Homo sapiens: one gene and its partner. The protein of the gene in region 1 interacts with the protein of each later gene in a pairwise test. Each region holds a gene or a part of one and is shown on either strand. Other genes may lie near its edges. The genes, in order: PEX11A and HACL1.

The links.
Region 2: the proteins of PEX11A (region 1) and HACL1 come close enough for resonance energy transfer, tested with the Homo sapiens proteins (one large-scale study listed by BioGRID).

What each region holds. Positions count from the first base shown.
Region 1 is NC_000015.10:89,687,750-89,692,070, reverse strand, and holds the start of PEX11A (peroxisomal membrane protein 11A), read left to right. Parts: upstream 1-1,316; 5' UTR 1,317-1,438; coding exon 1,439-1,494; intron 1,495-1,657; exon of another isoform or gene 1,658-1,723; intron 1,724-3,790; exon of another isoform or gene 3,791-4,194; intron 4,195-4,321. UniProt on the Homo sapiens protein: May be involved in peroxisomal proliferation and may regulate peroxisomes division. May mediate binding of coatomer proteins to the peroxisomal membrane. Promotes membrane protrusion and elongation on the peroxisomal surface.
Region 2 is NC_000003.12:15,591,264-15,595,093, reverse strand, and holds part of HACL1 (2-hydroxyacyl-CoA lyase 1), read left to right. Parts: intron 1-3,413; coding exon 3,414-3,494; intron 3,495-3,830. UniProt on the Homo sapiens protein: Peroxisomal 2-OH acyl-CoA lyase involved in the cleavage (C1 removal) reaction in the fatty acid alpha-oxydation in a thiamine pyrophosphate (TPP)-dependent manner.

The DNA of each region.
Region 1 (4,321 bases):
GGTGGGCACCAGAAACCAGAAAAGAAAGGGAAGTGGGAAAAGACTGGGAGCCATTTCTCCCCACACTGCCATATTCCAGCTGTGTTTCCAGGTATTCTAAGGAGTCTAGGGATTCTGAAGATGAACCTGGCCTTCTACATCATTATGAGGGTCTATTTGTCAATGTAGGAAAACAGACTATATTTTACTTTACAATTTGTTGCTTGATTTATAACTAAAATATTTAAACATACGGTGTGCTGGACTCCATTTGTACTCTTACCCAGGGCCTGCAAATGTTAGGAGCTGGCCTGACCAAGGGAATAAAGATTACGAAAATGTTCACCTTATTTTATTTTATTTTATTTTTTTGAGACAGCGTCTCGCTCTGTCGCCCAGGCTGGAAAGCAGTGGCACAATCTCGGCTCACTGCCACCTCCGCCTCCTGGGTTCCAGCGATTCTCCTGCCTCAGCCTCCCGAGTAGCTGGGATTACAGGCGCCCACCACCACGCCCGGCTACTTTTTTTGTATTTTTAGTAGAGACGGGGTTTCACCCTGTTGGCCAGGCTGGTCTCCAACTCCTGATCGCAGGTGATCCGCCCACCTCGGCTCCCAAAGTGTTGGGATTACAGGCGTAAGCCACAGCACCGGCCGACCTTATTTTGTGGTTATAGAGGGTACATTTTATAAAATTACTGCCACGGAGTGGGTAAGGCTCCTTTTCTTCAAGCCGCACAGAACGAATGTTCAGCGGTGCAATTTCATTGCAATCTATTTTTGCTTCACTTTGCTCATAATGACTCTTTTAGGATTTCCTCAGGTAACAATCTTCTTTCAATGTTCAATAATCCAAGCAGAACATTTTCTCACTTCATCCGCCTCCCATGCTAGGTTCACACTGTGAAATTGGCTTATCTCTGACCTAACCACTTCCTTCACCAGACATAGAGCTGGTGTAGCTCAAGGGAAAGAGGCACGGCGCTGGGAAATGATTAGGCCCCACCGTCCCAAGCAAGAGCTCAGGGGAGTTCTGAGGCTGGAGAGACCATTCGGGATATCACCCCGGGTTCCTGAGAACCTGAGATCTGCGGGGAGGCGTCAGGCATCCGGAAACGCCCGAGTCTGGGGAGACGGACCCCCTCAGACTTTCCTCTAGGAGACTCTACAGGTAAAGGGGAGTCCTGGGACTCGAGGGGAGCCCCGGCATCCAAAGGTAAGATCAGTTTTGCTCACCTGGCCGGGCGGCGTTGCGTCGCCTTGGTAACCACAACTTCCGGCTTGAACCGGAAGTCCGCGAAGTTGCTCTACAGAAAGTGTGCCCGCCCCCTCTGGGGCGGAGAGACTCAGCCCCTCCCCCTCAGCGGATAACCTGGGACTGACCGTTCCCTGGGGATCCGACGGGCCCCAGAGGACCCACGCCTGAGCCCCGTGCGACTCGTGGCCTTTGGGCTAGAAGCCATGGACGCCTTCACCCGCTTCACCAACCAGACCCAGGGCCGGGACCGACTCTTCAGGTGAGTCAGGTGCCAGCGGCCTCCGCCCCTTTCTCGCCCTAACTCGGCTCCCGTGCCTATTCCCCTGCACCCGGGAAAAAGGAGGTGATAGCCTAGTAGATGGAAGCAGGAAGGACGTTGCCAGCTCCTACGGAGGGAGTTTAGTATCCGAGCCCCTCCTTACCCTAAATTCAACGTGAGTGGGCCCAACGCACCCGCGTCCCGTCCTAGCCCCGTGCACGAAAGCCCCAGTGCCTGGCACCCTAGCCGCCTCGAGACCGCCGACGACGGGACACCGGCTGACAGATCCTCCTCCCCTCCTAACTTTGCTCTCCGGGCACAGAAAGATTGGTTCTCTCCACTCAACATTCTTCCGAGGGATCTCCTTTAAAGAGAAACTTTGGATTAGTATTTGTGGCTAGGGAAGCAAACCACTTGGTGTGACTTCAAATATCTCTCTTTTTTTTTTCTTTTGAGACGGAGTCTCGCTCTGTCGCCCAGGCAGTGGCGCGGTCTCGGCCCACTGCAACCTCTGCCTCCCGGGTTCAAGCGATTCTCCTGCCTCAGCCTCCTGAGTAGCTGGGATTACAGGCGTGCACTACCACGCCCGGCTACTTTTTGTATTTTTAGTAGAGACGGGGGTTTCGCCATGTTGGCCAGGCTGGTCTCGAACTCCTGACCTCAGGTGATCTGTCCACCTCGGCTTCCCAAAGTGCTGGGATTACAGGTGCGAGCCACCGCGCCCGGTCTCAAATACCTCTTGAAATGTTTGAGGAGAGACAGAAGTTCTCTTCCATTATTACCCAGGCTGTATCATTGAGATACTGCATGTGGAATAGTTTTGTAAATTGTAAAACAAAATATAGCGGGGATGAGACCACACCAACTGGATTGGGGGGAAATACAGTGGGGAGAAGCTCAGAAAGAACTAACTGCACCTCTAAGGTTCATGCTGTGCTACTGAAAATATTAAACAGAGATTGTGTCTCTTTTTCTTTTGGTTCCATAAGAAACGAAAAGAACTGAGAGATTGTATCTTTAATACGAATACAGTACTAGTTCATGATGTTTTAGAGATTTGGTTGATTCTTGCTTAATGAAAAAATATTTACAGTTGCAGTTTTATTTAACAGCTCTGCATTCTCTTCTGGGTGTGCAAGTGCTGATACAAACAGATCAATTAGAATGGCCCCAATAATGAGGCTTTTGGAAGCCATCTTTATGACAGCTATTGTTCCCAGTGTTTTGCAACTATGAACTTATATAACCCTCATCACAACCCTATGAGGTAGATACTCTAAATATTTTACCCACTTCAGATGGAGAAACTGAAGCAGAAAGAGGTTAATAGGTACTACAATGGCAGAACTGAGGGATTCACATCCACGCAAATGACTCCAGTGCCCACTTAACTACCAAGCTATACTGGCTTTCTCATTAGTTTGATAGGTTTTTTAAATGGTTACTTTATATACAAGCTTCATTAAATAGAAATTTCATTAAATAGAAACCTGTAATTCCAGTGTACCTAGAATGTACCCTGCAGGGTTTATCAAGGAAGTTGGTTAAAAAAATAATCATTTAGGCCGGGTGCAGTGGCTTACACCTGTAATCCCAGCACTTTGGGAGGCTGAGGTGGGCGGATCACAAAGTCAGGAGATCGAGACCATCCTGGCTAACATGGTGAAACCCTGTCTCTACTAAAAATACAAAAATTAGCTGGGCGTTGTGGTGGGCGCCTGCAGTCCCAGCTACTCAGGAGGCTGAGGCAGGAGAATGGCATGAGCCCAGGAGGCAAAGCTTGCAGTGAGCCAAGATCACGCCACTGCACTCCAGCCTGGGCAACAGAGCGAGACTCCTTCTAAAAAAAAAATAAAAACATTAAAAATAATAATCATCATCATTTAGGCCGGGTTCAGTGACTCACACCTGTAGTCCCAGCACTTTGGGAGGCTGAGGTGGGCAGATCATGAGGTCAGGAGTTCGGGACCAGCCTGGCCAACATGGTGAAACCCCATCTCTACTAAATATGCAAAAATTAGCTGGGCGTGATGGCACATGCCTGTAATCCCAGCTACTCAGGAGGCTGAGGCAGGAGAATCGCTTGAATCCGGGAGGCGGAGTTTGCAGAGAGCCAAGAACGCACCACTACCCTCCAGCCTGGGCAACAGAGCGAGACTCTGTCTCGAAAAATAATAATAATAATAATTTAAGATATGTTTATTCCAAAAGATCTGAGATCTCTAGCATTCATTTCCCAACCTCCTTGATGATCTGTATAACCTTTATGACCACACTGGCATTCATAAAATAATACCTTGCTTTCTGTGCCAATAATGCTCATGCAAACACGGTGAACATTCCTAAAACCTGTCAGACTGTAAGAAGTGTGGCAAGCACCAACCCCACAAAGTGACATAGTACAAGAAGAGCAAGGATTCTCTGTATGCCCAGGGAAAGCAGCATTATGACAGGAAGCAGAGTGGCTGTGGTGGGCAGACTAAGCCGATTTTCCAGAAAAAGTCTAAAACTACCAAGAAGTTTGTGCTAAAGCTTGAGTGTGTTGAGCCCAGTGAAGATCTAAGAGAATCCTGGCTATTAAAAGATGCCAGCATTTTGAACTGGGAGGAGATAAGAAGAGAAAGGGCCAAGTGATCCAGTTCTAAGTATCATCTTTTGTTTTATTATGAAGACAATAAAATCGAGTTTATGTTCACTTCAAAAATAAATAAATAAAAGTAATGTCTTACTGTTGGCCTGATCCTTATTATTAGACCAAAGCTCAGAAAGGCAGAATCATTGACATGACCAGTCCTGTAACCAGGAAGGACACTTAAAAAAGAGAAAG
Region 2 (3,830 bases), on another chromosome or scaffold:
GTGCAGTGGTGCAATCTCGGCTCAGTGGAACCTCTGCCTCCTGGGTTCAAGCGATCCTCATGCCTCAGCTTCCCCAGTAGCTGGGATTACAGGCATGCACCACCACACCCAGCTAATTTTTGTATTTTAGTAGAGATGGGGTTTCACTATGTTGGCCAGGATGGTCTCTGTCTCTTGACCTCATGATCTGCTGGCCTTGGCCTCCCAAAGGGCTGGGATTACAGGCGTGAGCCACCATGCCCGGCCGAAAAGTTCATATTTAAAACATTTTTGCTGTTTGAATGAACTTCTGGAGCTGCACTGGCAAGTATAGTAGCCACGAGCCGTATGACTTGTTTACATTTAAATTAATTAAAATTAAATAACATTTAAATCATAGTTTATCAGTTTGTAGTAGCCACATTTCAAGTGCTCAGTAACCATGTCAGTAGTGGCTACCGTATCATACTGCAAATGCAGAACATTTCTATTACTATACAAAGTTCTGTTGGATAGTACTGTTCTAGAAGTTTAGTTTACTTGGTGGTAATTACTTATTTTCAAGTCTGTCTTAAACAGAAATTTTTAAGAAATTATTTTATAAGTGTAAAATGGTGAACTGAATTATATTGAGATACCTTTTTCCCGAGTGGTTTAAGCTTAGAAAGTCACACTGAAGGGTAAAACATTCAAGTTCAATATTTATTTATTTGGAGTCTCACTCTGTCGTCTCCATGCTGGAGTGCAGTGGCACCATCTCGGCTCACTGCAAACTCCACCTCCCAGGTTCCAGCGATTCTCCTGCCTCAGCCTCCCAAGTAGCTGGCACTACAGGTGTGCACCACCATACTCAGCTAGTTTTTATATTTTTTAGAGACAGGGTTTCATCATGTTGCCCAGGCTGGTCTTGAACTCCTAGACTCAAGTGATCCATCTGCCTCAGCCTCTCAAGATGCTGGGATTACAGACGTCAGCCACCGTGCTCAGCCTCAAATTCAGTTTTAAAAGATTTTGGGGACCAGGCGCGGTGGCTCATGCCTGTAATCCCAGCACTTTGGGAGGCCGAGGCGGGTGGATCACCTGAGGCCAGGAGTTGGAGACAAGCCTGGCCAAACATGGTGAAACCCCGTCTCTACTAAAAATACAAAAATTAGCCGGGTGTGGTGGCACATGCCTGTAATCCCAGCTACTTGGGAGGCTGAGGCAGGAGAATCACTTGAATCCGGGAGGCGGAGGTTGCAGTGAGCCGAGATCACACCATTGCACTGCAGCCTGGGGAACAAGAACGAGACTTCGTCTCAAAAAAAAAAAAAAAAAAGACAAAAAAAAAAACACAAAACATTTTGGGCAGAGCACTGCATTCAGAATTACTTTCCTATCAAAGATCAGTCGACGTTATATTTATTTGTTAAGAAATGAAAAAAAAACCTTTTTTCATACAAAAATGAACTCAGCAGTCAAAAATTTGCTTCTGTATACCATTAACTTGATTTAGTCCAGATGTAGTCCAGATCAAAATAAGTGGTTAGAGACATAAGGTGTGAAAATGATAGGTACCTTATTTCTCACAAGAAATCCGATATCTTTCTTTTTTTGGGCCAGGCATGCTGGCTTATGCCTGTAATCCCAGCACTTTGGGAGGCCAAGGCAGGCAGATTGCTTGAGCCCAGGAGTTCAAGACCAGCCTGGGCAACATGGTGAAACCCCATCTCTACCAAAAAAAAATACAAAAAATTAGCCGGGTGTGGTGGCATCTGCCTGTAGTCCCGGTTACTTGGGAGGCTGTGGTGGGAAGATCACCTGAGCTTAGGAGGTTGAGGCTGCAGTGAGCCCTGATCATGCCACTGCACTCCAGCCTGAGCAACAGAGTGAGATGCTATCTCAAAAAAAAAGTGTGTATATATATACACACACGCACATATATATGTGTGTATATATACACACATATATACGTATGTGTGTATGTGTGTATATATACATATATACGTATGTGTGTGTATATATACACACACATATATGTATATGTGTGTGTATATATACACTTTTTTTGAGATAGCATCTCACTCTTGCCCAGAGTATATATGTACATATGCGTACATGTGTATACACGCACACATGTGCGTACATGTGTATACACGCACACATGTGCGTACATGTGTATACACGCACACATGTGCGTACATGTGTATACACGCACACATGTGCGTACATGTGTATACACGCACACATGTGCGTACATGTGTATACACGCACACATGTGCGTACATGTGTATACACGCACACATGTGCGTACATGTGTATACACGCACACATGTGCGTACATGTGTATACACGCACACATGTGCGTACATGTGTATACACGCACACATGTGCGTACATGTGTATACACGCACACATGTGCGTACATGTGTATACACGCACACATGTGCGTACATGTGTATACACGCACACATGTGCGTACATGTGTATACACGCACACATGTGCGTACATGTGTATACACGCACACATGTGCGTACATGTGTATACACGCACACATGTGCGTACATGTGTATACACGCACACATGTGCGTACATGTGTATACATGTGTATATGTATACAAGTGTATATACAAGTGTATATGTATACAAGTGTATGTATACGTGTGTGTATGTATACGTGTGTGTATGTATACGTGTGTCTACATGCATACGTGTGTGTATACGTGTGTCTACATGTATACACGTGTGTGTATACGTGTGTCTGTATGTATACATATATATAGAGTATACTCTGGTGCCCAGAGTATATATACATATATGTATACATATATATACGTATGTATACATATACACGTATGTATACGTATATATGGATCCATATATACACGTATGTATACGTATATACGTATGTATACATATATACACGCATGTATACATATATACGTATGTATACATATATACATGCATGTATACGTATATACGTATGTATACATATATACACGTATGTATACGTATATAGTGTGTATATATACGTATATAGTGTGTGTATATATACGTATACGTATATACGTATATATACGTATATAGTGTGTGTATATATACGTATGTAGTGTGTGTATATATACGTATATAGTATATACTATAGGTATATAGTGTGTATATATATACACTATGTATATAGTGTGTGTATATATACACGTATATACGTATATATACACTATATACATATATAGTGTATACACTATATACGTATATGTGTGTATGTATATATATCGCGATATATATATATCGCCTTGTTTTTTAATTAAAAATATTCTAATAATTGTTTTATCAGTTATAGTAAAGACTTGTATGTCCTTCCTTTGAAGTCCAAGATTGCCATGTTTCACACTAAAGTGTTATGAATCAGTTGTTACATTTGACCTGATTTTAATAAATTCTGTTTTGCTTTTAGGCCAGGAGTCTGCCTTGTTGTTTCTGGCCCAGGTCTCATCCATGCCTTGGGCGGTATGGCAAATGCAAACATGAACTGCTGGTAATGACATTATTATTACTGAAAACATTTTCTTAAAAAGGTCACTGCAGGATTTTACTGAGTAGAGCTAATGCTGATCTAGGGTAGAAAGACTTGGAAAAAAAAAACCCCTTCAATTCTTAGAAACTGAAAGTAGAGTTAGTTACCGGGGAGGGAATGAGGAGGAGGAGGGGGAATAGGGAGATAGGTCAAAGGGTACAAAGTTTCAGTCAAGTACGATAAAGCCTGGAGATCTAATGTACAACATGAAAGCCATAGTTAATAATATTGTGTATTGTAAATTTGCAAAGAGAGTAAATTTTAGGTACTTTTACCAAAAAAAGTGACTATTTCTAC